4 linked regions of the Homo sapiens genome follow. The protein of the gene in region 3 purifies or fractionates together with the protein of the main gene of each other region. This does not show direct contact. Each region holds a gene or a part of one and is shown on either strand. Other genes may lie near its edges.

Evidence for each region.
Region 1: the proteins of NOP56 (region 3) and SNU13 fractionate together in Homo sapiens (co-fractionation; 3 studies listed by BioGRID, with this or other methods). This does not show direct contact.
Region 2: the proteins of NOP56 (region 3) and NEMF fractionate together in Homo sapiens (co-fractionation; 2 studies listed by BioGRID). This does not show direct contact.
Region 4: the proteins of NOP56 (region 3) and TCOF1 purify together in Homo sapiens (affinity purification with western blotting; 2 studies listed by BioGRID, with this or other methods). This does not show direct contact.

What each region holds. Positions count from the first base shown.
Region 1 is NC_000022.11:41,673,433-41,678,907, forward strand, and holds the end of SNU13 (NHP2-like protein 1), read right to left. Parts: intron 3,729-5,475; exon of another isoform or gene 3,694-3,728; coding exon of another isoform or gene 3,310-3,693; exon of another isoform or gene 1,770-3,309; intron 1,764-1,769; coding exon 1,501-1,763; 3' UTR 501-1,500; downstream 1-500. Other genes in the region: protein LLP homolog, read right to left, coding at 3,310-3,693.
Region 2 is NC_000014.9:49,842,763-49,849,802, reverse strand, and holds part of NEMF (ribosome quality control complex subunit NEMF), read left to right. Parts: intron 1-3,537; coding exon 3,538-3,663; intron 3,664-7,040. UniProt on the Homo sapiens protein: Key component of the ribosome quality control complex (RQC), a ribosome-associated complex that mediates the extraction of incompletely synthesized nascent chains from stalled ribosomes as well as their ubiquitin-mediated proteasomal degradation.
Region 3 is NC_000020.11:2,655,632-2,658,933, reverse strand, and holds the end of NOP56 (nucleolar protein 56), read right to left. Parts: coding exon 3,188-3,302; intron 3,001-3,187; coding exon 2,900-3,000; exon of another isoform or gene 2,720-2,899; intron 2,534-2,719; coding exon 2,385-2,533; intron 2,311-2,384; exon of another isoform or gene 2,240-2,310; intron 2,161-2,239; coding exon 2,039-2,160; intron 1,996-2,038; exon of another isoform or gene 1,924-1,995; intron 1,854-1,923; coding exon 1,716-1,853; intron 1,562-1,715; exon of another isoform or gene 1,446-1,561; intron 1,006-1,445; coding exon 640-1,005; 3' UTR 541-639; downstream 1-540. Other genes in the region: IDH3B (isocitrate dehydrogenase [NAD] subunit beta, mitochondrial isoform e precursor), read left to right, coding at 97-175, 412-425. UniProt on the Homo sapiens protein: Involved in the early to middle stages of 60S ribosomal subunit biogenesis. Required for the biogenesis of box C/D snoRNAs such U3, U8 and U14 snoRNAs. Part of the small subunit (SSU) processome, first precursor of the small eukaryotic ribosomal subunit.
Region 4 is NC_000005.10:150,367,669-150,374,708, reverse strand, and holds part of TCOF1 (treacle protein), read right to left. Parts: intron 6,866-7,040; coding exon 6,792-6,865; intron 5,994-6,791; coding exon 5,807-5,993; intron 5,181-5,806; coding exon 5,107-5,180; intron 2,704-5,106; coding exon 2,473-2,703; intron 536-2,472; coding exon 323-535; intron 93-322; coding exon 1-92.

The sequences.
Region 1 (5,475 bases), on a different chromosome or scaffold from region 3:
CTCCAGTTGAGTGTGTATAAGACGACATTTTGAACTGCCAAGGTAGAAACTACCTGGTAGGAGGAGACAGCTCTTCCATAGCCTTCTGGTAAAAAAAAGTCTAAGCAAGTGGCCAGGCGTGGTGGCTCACACCTGTAATCCCAGCGCTTTGCGAGGCTGAGACAGGCAGATTACCTGAGGTCAGGAGTTCAAGACCAGCCTGGCCAACATGGTGAAACCCTGTCTCTACTAAAAATACAAAATTAGCTGGGCGTGGTGACGCACGCCTGTAATCCCAGCTACTTTGGGGGCTGAGGCAGGAGCATCACTTGAACCCAGGAGGCAGAGGCTGCAGTGAGCCGAGATCGTGCCATTGCACTCCAGCCTAGGCAACAAGAGTGAAACTCTTTCACAAAGAAGAAAAAAAAAGTCTTAAGCAGCTATCACCACTCTAGTAAAGCTAAGTATGTCTTCATTCCAATTTTAGCCGGATACTTACTAAGAATCAGGCACTGCCATTCTGTCATCAAAATGGAACAGATTTATTAGGATGCTCACAAGAATGGAGAACACATGAACTAGCACTCTCCTCATGTGACAGAGAGTACATCTGACCCACATGGTGGCAGGACACAGGGGAAGGGCTCTCAGAGCTGGTGCCAAGTGTCCACCAAAGAAAGTCCCATTCACCAGAGACAGGCTGTTTCCTTGGACTCCACCATCTCTGTTACAGCTACCAGCCAGGTCTCCATGATCTTCCTGGAATCCTTCATGCCAGCATCAGTTCATGCTCTCTGAGCTTGTCACTCCCGACTCTTTCAAGACCCAGGTCAACTGCCCCATGGCTCACCCACCCAGGCTGCCTCCGGAGTCCTGCAGCACATCTCTTTGGTATGCTGCTGCCCTGCTACCCTCAAGGGCATGGTTGTGGGTAGGGGGAGAACATCAACATCACATTACCAAAAGCAAACAGCAGGGGTACATTAGTAAACGACACTTGGACATAGCCGAACAACCTCACAGAACACATGCTTCCTCCCCAAATGATACCTAATCCCCCAAGAGCAAATGAAACCCCTTGATCACTTGAACACGTATGAATGATTCTGTGTGCCAGGCACAGGGACACACAATGAATGCTGTTTAATTCCACCACACCCCGCACACAACAGGAAGCTAGTGGCTGAAAGCTGGAACCAGATCTCTGTCCTGGCTCCATCAGCTTTCTCCTGGCTCTTTCTGCCTTTCAACGGTGCCACCACCCTGCTTCTGTCTGCTCTGAACACTTGTTCCAAAAAGGGAGGATAAAAGGATGAAGGATGGCAGAGGGAGGGAGGAAAGGAAGGGGGATAGCAACCCTGTAAAACAGAACAAAAACAACACAAAAATCCAGAAACCAGATTTAGTACTACATTTTATAACAATAGAGAGTAGCTGAAAATACTACATGCTAACACAGATAATATGATACACAACCTCAGGGGGGAAGCTGGCAGGGAGCACGTGGCAGAGGCCACAGGTTTAGACTAAGAGCCTTTCAATGGACTGCTGAATGGATTGGATCTGCTGTTTCAGCTGCGAGCCTTCTTTGATGGTGACAGAACAGGCGATGACAGGCCTGGAGACCCCACAGGCTCTCCCCAGGGCCTGCTTGGAGCGCACAAACACGTAGGGCACATTCTTGTCTTCACACAGCAGCGGCAGGTGCAGAATGATCTCCAGTGGCTCGGCGTCTGCAGCCATCACGATGAACTCAGAGATGCCCCTGTTGAGGGTTTTGGTGGCTGCGGAGAGAAGGACGTGAAGCTAATAGGTGATGTGGGCTTGGGCAGGGCAGCCACAACAAACTGGGAAGAATGCCTAGGCACACACAATTATGTGTCCTAGACCGGCCCTGGGATATGATAAAGGATTCAAACACCAGTCAGTCATACACAATGGCATTTTCTCAAGCCCTACATTAAATCCACCACTTATCCTCAAAACACGTCCTGAATCTGACCACTTCTTCTTCTTCTTTTTTTTTTTTGAGATGGAGTCTTGCTCTGTCACACAGCTGGAGTGCAGTGGTGCGATCTTGGCTCACTTCAACCTCCGCTTCCCGGGTTTAAGTGATTCTCCTGCCTCAGTCTCCCAAGCAGCTGGGATTACAGGCACGTGCCACTGTGTTTAGCTAATTTTTGTATTTTTAGTAGAGAGAGGGCTTCACCATGTTGTCCAGGCTGGTCTCAAACTCCTGACCTCAAGTGATCCACCCACCTCGGCCTCCCAAAGTGCTGAAATTACAGGTATGAGCCACTGTGCCTGTCCTAATCTGACAACTTTTTTCTTTCTTTTTTTTTTTTTTTTCTTTTTTTGAGATGGAGTCTCACACTGTCGCCCGGGCTGGAGTGCAATGGCGCAATCTTGGCTCATTGCAACCTCTGCCTCCCAGGTTCAAGTGATTCTCCTGCCTCAGCCTCCCAAGTAGCTGGGATTACAGGTGCCTGCCACCATGCCCAGCTAATTTTTTGTTTCACTATGTTGGCCAGGCTGGTCTCAAACTCCTAACCTTGTGATCCACCCACCTTGGCCTCCCAAAGTGCTGTGATTACAGGCATGAGCCACCACGCCTGGCCCTGACCACTTCTTTCTACTCCTCTGCTATACTCGTCCAAGTCACCATCATCTCTTACCTTGTCAACTGCAACAGCTTCCACAAACCCCCACCAGCAAGTAGTAGTATATTAATAATATAGTATTTCTCAAGGTATCTGTGACTGAGAGTCAGAGTTTTACCATCTCAATCTGCCATAATCAATACTTCTAGAAAGCTGATCCCACATGCGACTCACCATGCAAGTTCAACACCCCACAGCACCGTTTCAGATGCGTACTCTCCTGACTGCTTGCCTCTGTGGCTCAGTGCGAATACTCTGCATTCATGCTGGAGTACTTGAGAAGGGCACACACTCTAGAGCTACACTGTCTGAGTGCAAATGCTGGCACTCATTCTTGTTACACAAATGACCTTGAGCAAGGTGTTTAACTTCCCTTACTTTTATCATCTATAAAATAATTCTACCTAACAGGATTCTACCTAATAAAAAAAGAATTACCTAATTCTTTTTAACCTAATTCTTTTTTTTTTTTGTATCAAAGAAAATATTTTATTCAAGTTCCCAAAACAAACTTCAGGAGTTATGCTGGGTTTGAATTGAAGAAAAAAGGCCAAGTTAAAATAGGAAAACAAATGGTTTTCATTTGGTGGCAGCTGAAATCAAAGTATACATGTATATACATTCTAATCCATCATCTATCCCATGTGGCATTTTCCAAGGTTTTAAGAGTCTACCACGCCAAACCCTTTGCCACTTTCACTGCTTTTGCTTTGCTTTTCCCCTTTCTTTTCTCTCGCTTTGCCGTCAGCCTTTTTCTTTGCCTTTGGTTCATCCATATTGGGTACTGTCCATGCTGGTCTAGAAGAGTCTTTTTGTTTCTCTTAGTATCAGTCTCCCTTTTCATGTCATCTTTTTCATCTTTTACCTCACATTGCATTTTCTCTTGGCAATGTTTGGGTACCACCACAGTTGCTATCTCTTGAACATCTTTCATTAAAACATCACCGTCTAGTTTGAGAATACTTTTAAGCCTGCTGGCCTCCTTTGGGGCATTCTTTTTTCTCTTTTCAGCACGCATCTTTCTTTTCCACTTACTCCGTAAGCTTTTAGCCATGTTTCACCTGAGAAACGAACACCCACACCTCAGCTCTTTTTAACCTAATTCTAATTACCTAATAATTCTACTTAATAGGATTATTGAAAGGATTAAACCAGTTAATAAGAATGATGAGGCTGGGCATGGTGGCTCACACCTGTAATCCCAGCCCACTGGGAGGCTGAGGCAGGTAGATTGTTTGAACTCAGAGTTTGAGACCAGCCTGGGCAACATGGCAAAACCCCATCTCTACTAAAAATATAAAAAATTAGCCAGGTGTGGTGGCGTACACCTGTAGTTCCAGCTACCTGGGACGCTGAGGTGGGAGGATCACCTAAGCCCAGGAGGTCGTGGCTGCAGTGAGCCATGATCAATGCCAATGCACTCCAGCCTGGGCTGCAGAGTAAGACCCTATCTCAAAAAAAAGTAAAATAAATAATAATAATAATACCTGACACATGGCAAATGCAAAGCATGTTCATTTCTATTGATATTACTATAGCTTACTCACCCTACAAAAGTCATAGGAGTGACTCTTTTATAAGTGTTAAGTAAGATCATAGCAATCTTGCTGTTCAAAATCCTTCTACTCATTTACCATTGTACTCACTGCTAACAGTGGCCTACATGGTCTCATGTGATCTCCTAGTACCTCTCATCCCCACACTTAGTTCCAGCCACACACCAGCCTCCTTAGAATCCCTCAAGCATGCCTTTACACCATGCCCAAAAACGTTTCTTTCCAACACCCTCATCTATTCAGTTCTCTGCTCAAACTCCTCAGACAGACCTTCTCTGAATACTCCATCTAAAAAGACCCACCACTGCCATTCCTATCCCCCTTCTCTACTTTATTCTGTTTTACAGCATTCTTTTTTTTTTTTTTGAGACGGAGTCTCACTCTGTCGCCCAGGCTAGAGTGCAGTGGTGAGATCTCGGCTCACTGCAAGCTCCGCCTCCCGGGTTCACACCATTTTCCTGCCTCAGCCTCCTGAGCAGCTGGGACTATAGGCGCCCGCCACCACGCCCGGCTAATTTTTTGTATTTTTGGTAGAGATGAGGTTTCACCGTGTTAGCCAGGATGGTCTCGATCTCCTGACCTCATGATCTGCCCACCTCGGCCTCCCAAAGTGCTGGGATTACAGGTGTGAGCCACCGCGCCCGGCCTCTTACAGCATTCTTTACCACCAGGCATAAAACCTATGTCTTTCTCCACTGGAATGTATACTCCAAGAAGGCAGAGACTTCATTTTGTTCACCAGTGCATCATCAGCATATATACATGCGCCTGGCACATAGCAGGCAATCAATAAATATGGCAAGAAAGAATACCTGACACTGAGGCAGAAGTACGGAAAATTGTTGCATCTCCCTCCCTGAACTCCCAGTAAGCATATTCTGAATTAAGTCGCTGAGACTGAGCATCTCCATTCAAGGACCTGTGTGCTTATCACCGTGCAAAGTATGGCAAGAGGAAATAAGGTTGCTCTGTGTCCATGAGTCCTCATCTACCTGAAGTGTAAGAAGTCACATCCCTGCCCAGCCAAGCTGACCTGAGTGCATCAAGTGAGAAGAGAGACCTCCCAGGAGAGCTGGTGGGTCACCCTACAATGCCCCACTGGCCACTGCTATACCAGGCACTGCAGTTACTGCAGTGTGACGAGCAGGGAGGAAAGAGCACTACGACGAGACCCACAGAGTCTACTTTATCTTCCTTCAGCAACACAGGTAAAAGCGATTGTAATAGTTCTCCTAAATCTCAAACACAGTTGACAAAATCTCTGATGTTTCCATTAAAAA
Region 2 (7,040 bases), on a different chromosome or scaffold from region 3:
TGTTGTGTAGCACTTTTTAAGGCAGATGAATAATATGTATTTCATTTAAGTTGTTTAGCAACTCAGTGGACTGTGAAGAACAAATACAATTTCAGTTTTATGGATGAGGTAACAGGCCAATGAAATAGGACACTGGGATTGTGTAAACATCTCCAAATCAGACTACACTAATAGGTCAGTCACTTTAAAAAATACTTAGAATTCTATGGGTTAGGTGTACGTGTCAATCTAAATGTATAGAAAGATTTCCTCAATGGAGCAGACAATGTTAAGCACTTTATAAATCAAAGAGCTGTTACTGTTGCATGGCACAGGCAGAGTTATGTCTATTATGTGATAAATCACAGTGGTTGTTCCAGTATTCACATTTGGGGATGACAGCTATAGCTTTGTGGCACACAGCAGCAGGTTGATTTCACCAAGCTGTTGATAGGGAAATGAAACAAGCTTTAAATATGTACTATGTGTCCATCTGTACTCTCCATGATAAATAATCCCCTTTTTACTATTCCTTTGTGTGAACTTCTGTCCTTTCAATGATGCCTTTTGTCTTTATTTTTCTTGAATAAAATTATTACTCAGGGACTCTGGAAGAACTGATTGTGATTTTCCTCTAGGGATTTAAAGATAGCCCTACATGTAGGTTACTGTTTAATCAAATCAGTATAGGTCATTCTTAAAACTACTGAGTTAAGGAGGAGCAGATTGTTTATCCTAGGAAGTTATTCTGCCTATGTGAGTATATAAAATGCGAATTTCAGTCAATTTGGGCTATAAGGTCTGGAGAAGAACTCTTCTTAGTTATGAAAATGTTAGCATTAATTTTAATAATGAATTTATGTGTTTATTGTTGTTTTTTTTCAACCTTTGTCAAGGAGTGGATTTTTTGTCTTTTTTTTGAAGGTGGTCTTAGATTAACTTCTGTAAAATTTGTTTCGTATTTAAGTCTTTTTTTTTTTTTTTTTTTTTGAGACGGAGTCTTGCTCTGTCACCAGGCTGGAGGGCAGTGGCGCAGTCTTGGCTCACTGCAACTTCAGTCTCCTGGGTTCAAGTGATTCTCGTGTCTCAGCCTCCCAAGTAGCTGGGATTACAGGCACACGCCACCATGCCTGGCTAATTTTTGTATTTTTAGTAGAGATGGGGTTTCACCATGTTGGCCAGGCTGGTCTTGAACTCCTGACGTTGTGATCCGCCTGCCTCGGCCTCCCAGAGTGCTGGGATTACAGGCGTGAGCTGCCATACCCAGACCGTATTTGAGTCTTGAAGAAAGCATTCTTTCTTATTGGTCTTAACTAAAGGGTCTTTTATATTAAAAAATTAGAAACAATTGTAAGATATTTTAGAGGCTACAGAGTAGTCTTGTTACCAGTCCATGTCATACTTCAATATTTGTACAAAAAGACGGTACATGTAATCTAAAAGAGTAGGTATTGCCAAGTAAATTGTATTTGGATTTGATATACTAATATTATTTTAATTGTTAATAAGAAAAAGAACCTTATGGCCAGGGATAGGAGGAAGGGGATTTAATAAAGAATGAGAGTTATTACATTGGATTGAAATAGGTTATCAAAAGCTTAGAGACGATACCAGGAAAATTCTCTTTGGGTTATATTAGTAAAGTTTGTAGGAATAAGCTGGGCACAGTGGCAGGGCACTTGTAATCCTAGCTACTTGGGAGGCTAAGGTGGGAGATTGCTTGAGTCCAGGAGTTTGAGCCTTGCCTGGGCAACAGAGAGACTCTGTCCCTTTCTTTTTTTTTTTTTTTTTTGAGACAGAGTCTTGCTCTGTTGCCCAGGCTGGATTGCAGTAGTGTCATCTCGGCTCACTGTAACCTCCGCCTCTTGGGTTCAAGCGATTCTTTTGCCTCAGCCTCCTGAGTAGCTGGGATTACAGGCATGCGCCAGCACGCCCAGCTAATTTTTGTATTTTTAGTAGAGATGGGGTTTCACCATATTGGCCAGGCTGGTCTTGAACTCCTGACCTCAAGTGATCCACCTACCTCGGCCTCCCAAAGTGTTGGGATTACAGGCCTGAGCCACCGCTCCTGGCAAAGACTCTCTTAAAGAAAAAAAAAAAAAAAAAAAAAAAAAAAAGAATTGGTAGGGGTAACTGGATATAAGGTGGTGGACTATTTACAGGATACCATAAGCCATAAGCTCATGGTCCATAGTTGATATGTATTAGAAGTAGAAGATTAGTGGAAACAATTAATTAATTTTGAACATAAATGAAGCATACAAAAGGGAAATTTGGCATACTTAGAAGTGTCATCAAAGAGACTTAAAAAAAATAAAGGGACTGGGTGTGGTGGCTCACGCCTGTAATCCTAACACTTTGGGAGGCCGAGGTGGGCAGATTGCCTGAGCTCAGGAGTTCGAGACCAGCCTGGGCAACGTGGAGAAACCCCGTCTCTACTAAAATACAAAAAATTAGCCAGGCGTGGTAGTGGGCGCCTGTAGTCCCAGCTACTCTTGGGAGGGTGAGGCAGGAGGATTGCTTGAACCTGGGAGGCAGAAGTTGCAGTGAGCCAAGATTGTGCTACTGTACTCCAGCCTGGGTGACAAAGTGAGACTCCGTCTCCAAATAAATAAATAAATAAATAAATAAGTAAAGGTTGGCTGGGCACAGTGGCTCATGCCTGTAATCCCAGCACTTTGGGAGGCTGAGGTGGGCGGATCACGAGGTCAGAACTTCGAGACCAGCCTGACCAACATGGTGAAACCCCGTCTCTACTAAAAATAGAAAAATTAGCCGGGTGTGGTGGCACACGCCTGTAATTTCAGCTACTCAGGAGGCTGAGGCAGGAGAATCACTTGAACCTGGGAGGCGGAGGTTGCAGTGAGCTGAGACTGTGCCACTGCATTCCAGTCTGGGCGACAGAGCGAGACTCTCTCTCAAAATAAAGTAAATAAATAAAGGTTGTGGCTTATGAGTGAGGTCATTAGGACCACAACAAGGAATTTAGCAGTGGTATAAAGCAACAAAGCAAATTTTGCTATAGGTCCATCATTCTCTACTTAAAAATTGAAAATAAAAGCCTGGCTCAGTAGCTTACGCTTGTAATCCCAGCACTTTGGGAGGCCAAGGCAGGAGGATTGCTTGTGCCCAGGAGTTTGAGATTAGCCTGGGCAACATAGTGAGACCCTGTCTCTACAAATAATGAAAAAATTAGCTGGGGATAGTGGCATGTGCCTGTGGTCCCAATCCTCAGGAGGCTGATGCAGGAGGATCACCTGAGCCAGGGAAGTCGAGGCTGCAGCGAGCCATGATCACACCACTGGGCTCCAGTTTGGGTGACAGAGTGAGACCCTGTCTTAAAAAAATGCAAATAAAACACTGTTTCAGAGTTAGTGTTTATAATAAAATGTTTTCCCTCTGATTATCATCTGCAATCTATTACTTTATGACTATACTGTTATTCACAACGTTTTAAATATTCCTGATGATAATGAAAAGAAGCTTATTTATAAACCAATACCAAATGGTTAGGAATTCACTTTTACTAAATGAATGCCTTTTTCTTTCTCTTGCTAGTGCCGAAAACATTTGAAGAGTCGGAGATTAGTCAGTGCAAAACAGCTTGGTGTGGATAGAATTGTAGATTTTCAATTTGGAAGTGATGAAGCTGCTTACCATTTAATCATTGAGCTCTATGATAGGGTAAGTTAAATTTGTGGGATATGGTGAAGGAAAATTTCTTATTAATCATTTTGTAATAGTGCTATATAACATGAGTGGGGGAACATTTTTTTTCTGTGTCAAAGGTTGTTACTACCCTAGGAAATGGGTGCCACACAAATAAAATAAAATTTTCCAGTAATAACCTTCATTTTATCTGTAGGTCTGAGTTTAGGCAGACTTTAGCCATTTAGAATAGCCTTATGAATGTAGGAGATGAAGATCTGAGAAGTAAATTATTTGGTACTTGACATTTCAGGACTAATATGCAACCAGAAAATAGTCAAATACGGTCATGCACTGATGCGCTGTATGTATAGTGATGTTTCAGTCAACAACAGACTGCATATAAACGTTGGTCCTGTAACATTGTAATGGATCTAATAAATTCTTACTGCTTAGTGACATCTTGATCCTGACTCTGTGTAGGCCTAGGCTGGTGTGTGAGTTTGTGTGTTAGTTTTTAACAAAAACATTAAAAGTAAAAACAAAACAATTTAAAATGGAAAAAAAGCTTAGAGAATATGGATCTAAAGAAAGAAAGTATTGTACAGCTGTACGATATGTGTTTTAAGCTAAGTGTTATTACAAGAGTCAAAAAGCTAAAAAGTTTAAAGTTTATAAAGTAAAAAAGTTCCAGGAAGCAAAGGTTAATTTATTATTGAAGAAAGAAAAACATCTTAAAAATAAATTTGGCTGAGCGCAATGACTCAGGCCGGGCACAGTGGCTCACACCTGTAATCCTAGCATTTTGGGAGGCCGAGGAGGGCGGATCACCTGGGGTCAGATCACCTGGGGTCAGGAGTTCAAGACCAGCCTGGCCAACATGGCAAAACCCCGTCTCTATTAAAAAATACAAAAATTAGCTGGGCGTGGTGGCGGGCACCTATAATCCCAGCTACTCGGGAGGCTGAGGCAGGAGAATCACTTGAACCTGGGAGGCAGAGGTTCCAGTGAGCTCAGATTGTGTCACTGTGCTCCAGCCTGGGCAACGGAGCAAGACTTTGTCTCAAAAATAAACTAACTAACTAACTAACTAACTAACTTAATCTGGGCCAGGTGTGGTGGCTCACACCTGTAATCCCAGCACTTTGGGAGGCCAAGGCGAGTGGATCACCTGAGGTCAGGAGTTTGAGACCAGCCTGCCCAATGTGGCAAAACTGCATCTCTACTAAAAATACAAAAATTAGCCTGGTGTGGTGGTGCGTGCCTGTAGTCCCAGCTACTCGGGAGGCTGAGGCAGGAGAATCACTTGAACCTGGGAGGCAGTGGTTGCAGTGAGCTGAGATCATGCCATTGTACTCCAGCTCAGGTGACAGAGTGAGATTCAGTCTCAAAAAGGAAAAAAAAAATATATGTGTGTGTGTGTGTGTGTGTGTGTGTGCGCGCGCGTGCGCGTGCGTGTGTATGTATATAAATAAATAAATACATAAATTTAATCTGGTCTGAGGTAAGCATAATTTTTTTAAAAATTAAAAAATAAAAAACAAATTTAGTGTAGCCCAAGTGTGCAGTATTTATCAAGTCTACAGTAGTATGCAGTAATGTCCCAGGCCTTCACATTTACTCACTGTCACTCACCCAGAGCAGTTTTCAGTCCTGCATGCTCCATTCATGGTAAGTGCCCTATACAGGTGTTCCATTTTTAATCTTTTATACCAGGGATCTTCAACCCCTGTGCCGCAGACTGGAACTGGTCTGTGGAACCAGGCCACACGGCAGGAGGTGAGCAGTATGCGAGTGAGCATTACTCACCTGAGCTCTGCCTCCTGTCAGATCAGTGGTGGCATTAGATTCTTATAGGAGCGTGAACCCTATTGTGAACTGTGCATGCAAGGGATCTAGGTTGCATGCTTCTTGCGAGAATCTAATGCCTGATGATCTGAGGTGGAACAGTTTCATCCGGAAACCATACCCCTGCACCCCCCATCCATGGAAAAATTGTCTTCCATGAAACTGGTCCCTGGTGCCAAAGGCTGGGGACTGCGGTTTTTTTTTTGTTTTGTTTTGGTTTTTTTTTTTTGATACAGAGTCTCACTTTGTTGCCCAGGCTGCAGTGCAAGGGTGTGATCTCAGCTCACTGCAACCTCTGCCTCCCGGGTTCAAGCAATCCTAGTGCCTCAGCCTCCTGAGTAGCTGGTATTACTGGCATGTACTACCATGCCCAGCTAATTTTTGTATTTTTAGTAGAGATGGGGTTTCACCATATTGGCCAGACTGTTCTCAAACTCCTGACCTCAGGTGATCTGCTCGCCTTGGCCTCCCAAAATGCTGGGATCACAGGCATGAGCCACTGCGCCCGGCCTGGAACTGTTGTTGTAATACCATATTTTTACTGTACTTTTTCTATATTTAGATGTACTTAGATACACAAATACTTGCTATTGTATTACAGTTGACTACAGTATTCAGTAACATGCTATACAGATTCCTAGCCTAGGAGCAATAGGTTATATCATATCTTTGGTGGATGTATTAGGCTACACCGTCTAGGTTTGTGTAAGTATACTCTATTACGTTCACACGACATCGAAGTTGCCTAAATGCATTTCTTAGAATGTATCCCCATTGTTAAGCAATGCATGACATTGGGTCTGCCTTCTTTTATGCAATATTTTTTATTTTTTTGAGATAGAGTCTTGCTCTGTTGGCCAGGCTGGAATTCAGTGGCATGATCAGGGCTTACTGCAAACTCGGCCTCCTGGGCTCAAGTGACCCTCTTGCCTTAGCCTTTCATGTAGCTGGTACCACAGATGTGCACCACCATGCCTGGCCAATTTTTTTATTTTTTGTAGAGACAGACTCTCACTTCGTTGCCCAGGCTGACCTTGGACCCCTGGCTCAAGCAATCTTCCCATCTCAACCTCCTAAGGTGTTGGGATTACGGGGGTGAGCCACCACGCCTGGCTCTTTTATTCAATATATAATGTCTGTGAGATTCATTGATGTTGAAAATTCCCTTAGCTCCACATCCTTAGCAACATTTGATATGATCTCTTAGAGCTCTTTATCTAATCTGATTATGAGCCCTTTGCTGATTATTTGTGTAGTAAATGTCCTTTTCTACTCTAACCTGAGTTTTTACTCTTTCTTTTTTTTTATTTTTTAATTTTTTTTGAGAATAAGTCTCACCCTGTCGCCAGGCTGGAGTGCAGTGGTGTGATCTTGGCTCACTGCAACCTCCGCCTCCCGGGTTCAAGCGATTCTCCTGCCTTAGCCTCCCGAGTAGCTGGGATTACAGGCACCTGCCACCACGCCCAGCTAGTTTTTGTACTCTTAGTAAAACAGGGATTCACCATGTTGGCCAGTCTGGTCTTGAACTCCTGACCTCAGATAATCTGCCCACCTTGGCCTCCCAA
Region 3 (3,302 bases):
CATTCTTGGCTTCCATTTCCTCAATCACATTGCCCTACCTCCCTTCATGGGCTCTCTTTTCTCCCTCCCCACGGCTGTTGCCGGTGGTGGCTGTAGGTGCGGACTCGAGACATGGGCGGCTACAGCACCACAACCGACTTCATCAAGTCTGTCATCGGTCACCTGCAGACTAAAGGGAGCTAGAGCCCTTTATTTCTTCCAACCTTGCAAGGACCACACTCCCCATACCCTTCAGTGCAGTGTACCAGGGAAGAGACCTTGTGCCTCTAAGCAGTGGACCATGGTCACCTTGCTGGGTAGAGCCTAGGTTGTCCTTGGGCCGGCTTCCTTAGGGGACAGACTGTTGGGTGGTGATGGGGATTGTTAGGATGGAGCCCAGGCCACATGGATGATGATGATTCTCCCCCACAGGTTCGAACCTCTGACATGGGTGGCTATGCTACTTGCCATGACTTCACTGAGGCTGTCATTGCTGCCTTGCCCCACCCATAGGCCCTGTCCATACCCATGTAAGGTGTTCAATAAAGAACATGAACCAACTCTTGTGAATTTGTTTTTATTGGGGAACACGGCACAGGGTGGGAAATGTCACCTTGGGCTATGGTATGCCCCACCTCCCAGAGAATGTCCATTTGCATTCTAATCTTCCTGGGATGCTTTATGGAACTTTTTCTTCTTCTTGGAGCTGCTCTTGCCAACCGCCTCTTCAGGCCCACTGCTGACCGGCTCCTCTTTGGAGAATTTCCTCTTTTTCTTGGAGCCACTTCTGTGGCCTGCCTCCTCAGGGTCATTAACTGTTTCCTCCTTGGGTGTAGACTTCTTCCTCTTGGGAATACTGGTGCTGCCAGCGGTCTCTTCAAGATCGCTACTCATCAACTCCTCCTTGGAAAAAGATTTCTTTTTCTTGGGTTTGGAGAAAGAGATAGATGGGTCTTCCATTCCATTCTCCTGAGGAACCTCCTGGGGCTTTTGCTTTTTCTTCTTTTTGGGTTTTTCACTCATCTCCTAAAGGGAAGGACAGGGGAACAGGCTGTGAGAACAGTGCTCATTACATCTTCAGCAATTAAGTAGCCAAGGCAGGGGAACGCGTGTCGTTAACATTGCCCAGTGTTTCTGGGATAGTTTAATTGTGTGGGTATAACTTTAGAAATCCACCCCAAAGGCTGTCCCAAATTAGAAGGAAAACATGTCATGAGAAATTACCTCAGCCCATTAAAAAAAAAAACCTAAAAAACACCCACCATGCTGGTCGCAACAGAACCATCATGCCAAGTTCCAGACAGGGCCCTGAAACACTGTTTAAGAAACTGGGTGCTAAATGAAAATCTCAGGGAGAATGATTGTAGCTTAGCACATTGGGGACCTCCCTGCCCCCATCCCCACTGTGAAACACGACCACCTCCGGACACACGTCTGATAATAAGCAGAGCAGGAATTTACACTACCCCAGGTTGAGGACTCCTGGGAGGCAGCCGAGGACAGAACACACATGCCCAGGGAACGGGTGTGAGCTACAACCAGCTCTCTGGGCTCTTGAGCAAGTTCAGCACCTATCTCCTTCCTATAGAATCAAGAGGTAGTTTTAGATGTTTCAGGTCCTTGTTTCAGTCCAAAAGCCTGGACTCAAGACCACAGCTTGATGCAGCATATCCTTTGTTCTGCTGTTGAAAATCCTACAACCTAGGATCTCTGCCAGGGCCGTGCTGCCTACTGACCTCACACTCCTCTGGAGTACTACTGCTGTTTTCTGAAGACGCGAGGGCAAGTGCAGCCAGCCGTTTCTTTTCCTTCTTTAAGCGTTTCTTCTCCTGTTTCTCCAGCTTCCTAGTAATCTCAGCAGCCGCTTCCTCTGCCTGGTCAAAGAAAAGTGCTAAAAGGGCCTGAAGACTTCTGGTGCTCTGAGGACTCCTTTCTGGCTTTATTGGATCAGGCTCATTAAATCAGTTTTTTTGCCTCCATTCTACAAGGTCAGGCTCAGACAGTTCATCACCTCCAACAGCTAGCTATGCCACTCCACACCCAGCAAAGCCCAACTGACCTGAACCATTGCTTCCTTCATGACATCCAGATTCTTTCGTGGTATCTCTCCAGTCTCATAGAAGGACAGTCGCTCTTCAACTTGTTCTCGAAGCTTCTCCCCGAATACACTCGTGGGCACCTCTGGATGTGTGTGGGTGACAAAGCCTGTCAGCCCAAAGAGAGAAACTACCCCAACCCTGTGTTCCCTCTACCCTCAGCTTCACTCAGACCCAGAGTCTCAACACTCACTAGGTGAACTGCTGTTGACGAAAAATATTGCCATCATTGTGGAAGCTATGGTTGCAAGCCTCCCCACCCAGCCACCCAGCCCCTTCTCACACCTGCCAACGCCCCCCCACCCATACCAGAGAAGCAATCGATTCGTGAGGCAATACTGCATTTGTTTGCCAGGTATCGGGAGATGCGGCCTTTGTTCTTGGCAGCTGCTCGGCCAATGAAGGTGGAGTGGAAAATGAGTCCATATTTTGGAGTGTTACCCCTTGTCTTCAGGGCTCTGAGAGAATATTCAGTGGAGAGTTTAAGATCAGAAATTTCAACCCCATTAGCCAAGGCAGCTCAGCTCCTCCCCTCCTCTCACCCCGAAGTCCTGAGTGAGCCTCAGGCCAGATTGGATCTCTACCCCAATGCATGCCAACCCATAGCTCCCAGAGGCAGAGGGAAGGCATCCAATGTCGCTGACCTGGAAACTTGGTCCCTTTGCTGGGCCCTGGGAATCACTCAGACACCAGGACTGGCCATCACCCCCATAGCAGAGGCCTGTATAGGTCAGGGAGCCCTGGTCAGCCATCACCGTGATCCCCCAACAAGCAGTGGGCACCAGAAGTGGCACCTGATTGTGGGCAGGTGCCCTCACTGGTACCTGAACAGGGCCTTTTCAGCCCCAAGGATCTGCACTGTGGATGCTGGATACTTGGCCAGGTTGGTGAGGCTGCCAGCATGTGCGATGAGACGTGCACCTACCTGGAGAGAGAGTCAAGGAAGCAGTCAGAGAAATGAACTGCTGACCTGCCCAGTTGCACGACAGCCCTGCTCCCCACCTCCCCATCAAGCACAACTAGGGAAGACATGGTGGGTCACGAAATACAGCAGTGCAGGTGCACATGGCAACAGTCCTTATTCTCCCATTTTTGAGTCCCCTGTGACGCACCGCTTCCCCAATTAGGGCTGACAGGCTGGGGGCTACTTGGCTCATCTTGGAGCGCAGGTAAGTGTGTAGGCTCTGGCGGTATTCAGATAAAGACACCACACGACTGGAGAAGCTC
Region 4 (7,040 bases), on a different chromosome or scaffold from region 3:
CCAGGGGGCGCTGGGGCAGCTCCTTTCCTGGGGGACTCCTTGGCAGGGGCTGAGGCAGCTCCGACCTGAGAGGTTTTTCCTGAGGCCTTCGCCTGGAGAAACAAGACAAGGGGAGACAGCCCAGAGGATGGACGTGTGAGGAGACACAGGACACCACGTACAGAAGACCAGATAGGGCAAATGATGCCACACAGTGAGAGGGGAGTAAGGGGCTGGGGTCTGAGGCACGCCCGGGGCTCTGGCCCAGAGTGGGAGAACAAGTCCTGAGAAGGCCTTCTGGGGACGGGCCTGGCTGCATGGAGTCTCCCTCCTCAGGCCTCACCTGAAGCAGGGCCTTGGCAGCTGGCGTCTCCTCCTCACTGTCAGATGACTCCTCGCTGCTGCTCTCTGAGTCCTCCTCTGGCTTCCCTGCCTTGGTCTGGGAGGCTACAGCCCCTGCCTTCCCAGGGGGTGCTGGGGTAGCCCCTTTCCCAGGGGTCCCCTTGGCAGGGGCTGAGGCAGCTCTGACCTGGAGAATTTTTTCAGAGGCCTTTACCTGGTGAAAAAGAAAGGGCAGCTTGCTCTCCTGCTTGTGAAAACTCTCTGGTGATGCCTTTAGGATAAAGTCCAGAGGCCTTAATGAGGCTCCTAAGACCTCCCCTGCTTCCCTCCCCACTCCCCACCTTGACTGATACTTTGGCCACACTGGCCTCCTGGTTTCTCAAAAATCGATCAGCTTCACACACTCTCACTCCTGGAGCCTCCATGCCCCCTGTTCCATTTCACTTAGCCACTGCCTCCTCTGTCTCTGGCTCCCTAAGAGACACCACTTCCTTAACATGGTTCCCCCTGGTGCCCCAGCACACTGGGTAGTTAGAGCCTGTCCTCTGCTGGGCTCCCACTGGCCAGAGAGCTCTGGAGGCACAGGCACTGGCTTATCGGGAGCATCATCAGACTGGGCTGTGGGGAGGGGGTGTGCAAAGGCCCAGGGAAGGGAAGGAATGAAGAGGCAGTCTGAAAGTGGGGAAGGGACTGAGGGAGGCCCTCACTGGACTTTCTGCACATGGACAGCAGCAGGACCCCTGGAAGCCCACCCTCAGCCTCATGGGGCAAGGTTTGCACACCTGGCCCCCTCTTCACTAACTCCTCGGTGGGGCTCTGCACTGTCTTGGGGCTTTGGCAGGGTGGCTGCAGGCCCTGTCTTCCCTGGAAGGCCCTGGGTGTTCAGCCCTGGGCCAACAACCCTAGAAAACAGCAGCTCTGATCTTCTAAGAAGCTTCTCATGCAGAAAGTGCAGGCTGCTCCACACAGGTCTTGCTTGGCTAGCTCCTTTTTAAATTTTTGAGCCAACATGGAGAAAGCAGATTTTACATAAAAGTTCACATTTATGGCCAGGTGCGGTGGCTCATATCTGTAATCACGGCACTTTGGGAGGCCAAGGTGGGAGGACTGCTTGAGTCCACAGCTTGTGAAACACAGTGAAACCCTGTCTATACACACACACACACACACACACAAGCTGGGTGTGGTGGTGTGTGCCTGTATTCCTAGCTACTCAGGAGTGAGGCTGCAGTGAGCTATGATTGCCGCTACTGCACTCCAGCTTGGGCAACAGAGCAAGACTCTGTCTCAAAAAAAAAATTCACATTTGTGTTCCTTCTCAAAGTGGATGCCCATCCAACACTGTGTAGCCCCCAGACACTGCAAAATAGACAGCCGAGGCGTAGAAGTTCCCTGTAGATGGGGTGGGAACAACAATTTGTCACAATTCGTAGTCCTACTTCTACCTCAGGGCCTTGACACTTGCTGAGCCCCTGCCTGGAATGACCTTCCTAAGAGTGCTTCCTCCTTCTGGTCTTTACTGAGACGCCTTCTCCCAAGGCCAGCCCAGAGCACTCTGCTTCAAGTTGCCATTCCTATGTCCCCCACTTCCTCTTTACCATTTACCAGCAGCTAACGCAGGGGATCTGCTTATCTACTGCATGCCCCCGCCTTGTCCTGCCCCAGGCCTGGGGCTGGGTGGGTGACCCTCACTCTTCCTCCTTCCTGCTCTGACTTCCATTGCTTTCCAGCCCCCCTGTCTTGCCCTTGGGATACACCCAGGGCCTTGGGGCTGCAGCCCTGCCCACTCCCAGCAGATGGGGAAGGGAACTGGATTCCCTTTAGCTAACGTAGTGTTTGCCTGCTCAGGGTCTGGTTTGTCCTGAGAAGTCAGAGGATTAGGCAATCAAAACTTCTCAAGTCCCTCACAGCAGGACTGGCTGGGACGAGGACAGCGGCCCATTTACTAGGCAGAGAAACTGAGGTAAAGTTGGTCACAGACAAAGTGGAGTGCAAGACTCCCCTGTGGGAAGCAGGCTGTTCTTGCTCTTCAACTTCACACCATAGTCCTCCCTCTCCCCAACTCCAGTGGCAGAGGTGCTCATGGCAGAGTGCTCAGGCTGCTGGGGGACCCGCAGGTCCTCCAAGGGGCAGCCCTCCTCCAGGCCTCACCTGGCTTCGTGTCCCTGCAGGGGCCTCCTCCTCACTTTCAGATCCCTCCTCACTACTCTCTGACTCCTCTTCTGGCTTCTTGGCCCTCTTGGCTGGGGGCAGGGCCCCTCCTTTGACCTGGGGTGTCACATCCCCCACCTTCCCAGGGGCTGGGGCCGCCTTTCTTGCTGGAGACTCCTTAGTAGAAACTGATGAGGCTTTGACCTGGGCTGGTTTTACTGAGGGTTTCCCCTGGAACAAGAGGATGGAATTAGAAAATGAATAATAATTACTGTTTCCCCCTAAGGTTCTGTATTAGGGGCTTCAGCAGTTGATAAAGCTCTTTCCTAATGTCACTGGATTTTTAAGCAACTCCCTGAGACGGCTATTAGCTTTAGATCCATTTTCCAGAAAAGTACACAAGGCTTAAAGAGGTAAAATCACTCATGATCAATATGAAGGGACAGAGCCCCACTGGAACCCTGGACTGTCTGACTTTGGAACAGATCTCAAAACCATTACGTTCATCTCCCACCTGGCACACACCGGGCTTGGCCTGAGAGAAGGGCTTGCATCTCAATCAGGAGAGCGCATCCTGTCTGCCCCTTAAACTCAAGTATCTGATCACAGCAGCCCTCCTGAGGGCCAGGAGTTCAGGATGTGAACACCACCTCTGCCACTGGCTTGCCACACCTTGGGCAAATTCCTTCCCTCTGTGAGCTCTTTCCTACACTTCCACAATTCAGACATTTCCCAGGCAGTCAGTGCCCTACTTCTACCTCTGAGATCCATCAGACCCCTTGCGGCCCTGGGTTTCTGGGGCGTCTGCTACTGGAGCTCTGCACAGCCTCAGCCCATTGAGGTTGTGTGTTTATGGAGGGCTGGGAGTGGTCTTCTTCCCTTTGGCAAGGCCTGGGGTGACAGAAGCCAGGGATGTCCTTACAGCTGGTGGTATCTAGGGCGCAAGGGTGAGGACGGAAGGTGGAGGGCAGCCCTTGGTAAGGCCTGGGGTAGATGGGGGTGAGCTTTCAACCTTCACAGGGTTACTGGGCCAGGCAGCACAGTAAAGTGAGAAGTTCCCTGGGCACCAGATCAGTTCATCCCTGACTTGTGCTGGTTTTCCCTTGAAAACATCTTTCCAACTGTGGACACCTTGGTCTCCCAGCCCCCAGCCTCTTATGCCAGTATCAGTATTACTCCAATAGTCTCCTACATGGTCTTACTGCTTTTATTCTGCACTGCCCTCCAACCCAGGCTGCAGCCAGCAATCTTATTAAATGCAAATCAGGCCATCTCTCCTTGCTGGCATGGCTTCTCACAGCCCCTAGAATAAAACCCAAATTCCTTATGGTGGTCCTCAAGGTCAGACAGAAGATCTGGCCCCTGTCTACCTAGGACTTCATCTTGTGTCACTTTCCCCATAATTTATTTGTTTTTTTAAAAAATAACATCTTGTAGAGACAGGGTTTCACTATGTTGCTCAGGCTGGGTTCAAACTTCTGGCCTCAAATGATCCTCCTGCCTTGGCCTCCCAGAGTGCTGCACTTACAGGTGCGAGCCACCGTGCCTGGTTTCTCCCTCTCATTTAAAGATCAAGGTTTTGGCCAGGCGTGGCGGCTCATGCCTGTAATCCCAGCACTTTGGGAGGCCAAGGCACATGGACCACTTGAGGTCAGGAGTTCGAGACTAGCCTGGCCAACATGGTGAAACCCTGTCTCCACAAAAAATACAAAAATTAGCCAGGCGTGGTGGCGTGCACCTGTAATCCCAGCTACTTGGGAGGCTGAGGCACGACAATCGCTTGAACCCGGGAGGTGGAAGTTGCAGCTAGCCAAGATCGCGCTACTGCACTCCAGCTTGGGTGACACAGTGAGACTGTCTTAAAAAAAGATCAATGTTCTTTAAAAGCACCAAACTCTCTTTGCCGCCTTCTCTGCACATGCCATTCCTTCTGCTTACGCCTACTCATCAACGTCAGGTTCCTGCCCTGCGTGGCCCTCTACATTTCCACTTCATAGCAGCCATCACCAATTAAATATCTGAGGGACGCTCCCTTGCCCCATGGCAGCAGGAACTCTGCCTGTCCTGCTCATCACTATATTCCCCAGGTCTGCCACTTAGTAGGTACACAATAAAAAGTAACCTGTGGAGACCTTTTCCAGGTCAAAGTTCACAAACCCAAGAGTCCTGCCCAACTCTAGCCAAGTGTCTAGGCCTGGCATTCACCAGTTGGCCCAGAACCCTCTCAGCAGCCGCAGCCCTAGCCAGACCACGACAGCCACACTGTTGCCTCTGGGCCCTGTTCTTGCCCCATTTCCTGTCTGGAATGCCCTGCCTCCTCCACATCCCTTCCCAGTGAAGCCCACTGTGCTTTGAGGCCCTACTCCAGGGCACCTCTCCCAGGAAGGCTTGTCTAGTCTCACAGGCAGGAGGGTGTCCCTCTCCTGCCCCCAGGGCTGATCTCACACTCAGAGTGCAGCAAGCAGCACCAGACTCCTCTCCCTGCCCCTCTCCGGCTGCAGCCTTTCCAGCTCCTGGTCACCCTACCACAGTTGCTGAACTCATCTGGGCCCACTGGTGTCTGAAGCCCCAGACAGGTTCCTGGAAGGGTTAGAGGCTGGGAGAGGGCAACTCCTAGGGATGGGTGGCAATTACCTCCACGTCTGTCTCATCACTGGAGCTGGAGGTGTCCTCGCTGGAGCTGTCGGCCTGGCCCGCTGACACCATCCCTGAGGATCGGACACGGAGGGGACTGAGGGACTCCCTTTCCAGCCTCACCTGCCCCTCCCCAGCACCTCCCCACAAACCAGCTGCTCATCAAAGCCAGGTGCTGAGCGCTCACCCCTCGTGTGCCTCACATGCACTGAGCTGTGAAGCCCCCTTCTGAGGTGGGTACCATCACCATCCCTATGTTCCCACACATCTCTGAGGCCCTGGGAAGGGCTGTGAGGGGACCCAACAAATATGCACCAGCACCTGACAGTCTACAGAACCTCCATCCACCATCATATCCACTGATGCAGGCCAGACAGATGTCTACTCTACATAGGAAACAGAGGCAAATCAGGCCTTTCAGTTTAGTCTCTGAGCTGCCAGTTGTCCCTGTAACTCACCAGGGAGTCATAAAGCAGAAAATGCTCCAACCACCAGGTGGGCTGTTCAGCCTGAGGCCAGGTCCCTGTAAGCTGACCCTCCCTCGTCTAGGTGATGAGAAAAGTCCTAAGATGCAGGAACCTGGCTGTCCTGGAGACAAACTTTTGATTCCAGAAATGTCCCAGAACTTAAAGCAATGCCTAGGCCTGCCTCACCAGCCCAAGTTCTGGGGACTAGGTTCCTAGAGGTGGGGACTTCTTACCAGGCTTGGCAGCAGCTCCAAAGGCCGGGACGCTGCCCTCCTCCTCAGTTTCTGAGACCAACGTAGTATTTGCTGAGGGCTCTGCTGACTTCCTGGGAGACTTCCCAGAAAGAAGGTTGGCCACCGTCTTCCCAGTGGCAGGGTGTGGCATGGAATTCCCAGTCTTGCCAGCTTTCTCTGTCTCTGCCTACAGAGAACAAGAGTGACAGACACATCTGGTATGGCATGGTGAACTAAGAGCACAGGCCACTTGCATCTGAACCCAATCTTACCACTTCTTAGCTGTGTGAGTTTGGGTAAACTACCCCTTCAATCTGTTTCCCAATCTTTAAAGTGAGGTTAAAAACAGCACCTCCTCTCACCAGAGGTGTTGAGAAAACAGAATCCCAGTTCTTGGGACATGGTAGTTATTTACTAAGTGGTAAGTAGCAGTTTGTTGTTGATCTTATCATTACTTCATAATTACTTTGAGACATTGTTGCTAATGCTCCAGGCAATCGCAGAGGCACAATTCTTTATACATGTATGTATCTAACTCTGCTTTCTGGATTATTAGAAAATGACACCTTGTTTTTTGAGCAGTTTCCAGTTTGGAAAATGCTTTTAGAGTTTCAGAACCACAGATGTCTTGATCACTACGGTGCCTCCACACCTAGCACAGTGCCTGGAACATAACAGGTATTAGTCAAGATCTGTTGAGTGAACGGGTGAACGCAGGCATGAAAGAGGAAAGAAATCGCCTACCCCAGGTGTAGAATGTGCCCAGTGGCCCACTGCAGCAGGCATCATCCTTATCTTTATAGAAAAGTAAACTGAGGCCCAGAGAGGTGAAGGGACTAAGATCCCACAACTGGTGACACAGGTTGAGCTCTGAATCCAGGTGGGGCAATTACTCACAACCCTATCCTTCTCTGACATGTAAGACTGTCCCCTACCAGGCACCTTAAATCCCATAGGCAATAGCTTGGAAGGCAGTCCCACTCACCTTGGCTTTTTCTTTCATGCTTGATGGCAAGTCCGCCCCCAGGACTGAGGAGTTGGTAGATGCTAGTCTTGGGGCTGCAAGAAACAAACATCTGCTAAAGGAGCCAGATGAGCTTTTCTCATCTATGAATGGCAAACAGGTTTCATCTCACCTAACAATTCTATTGGTATTGGCTGCCTGGTGCTGGCATGAGGATCTGAGGCTGAGCCCAGACTTGCAGGAATGAGCTCTGTGATGCATCAGCCAGGT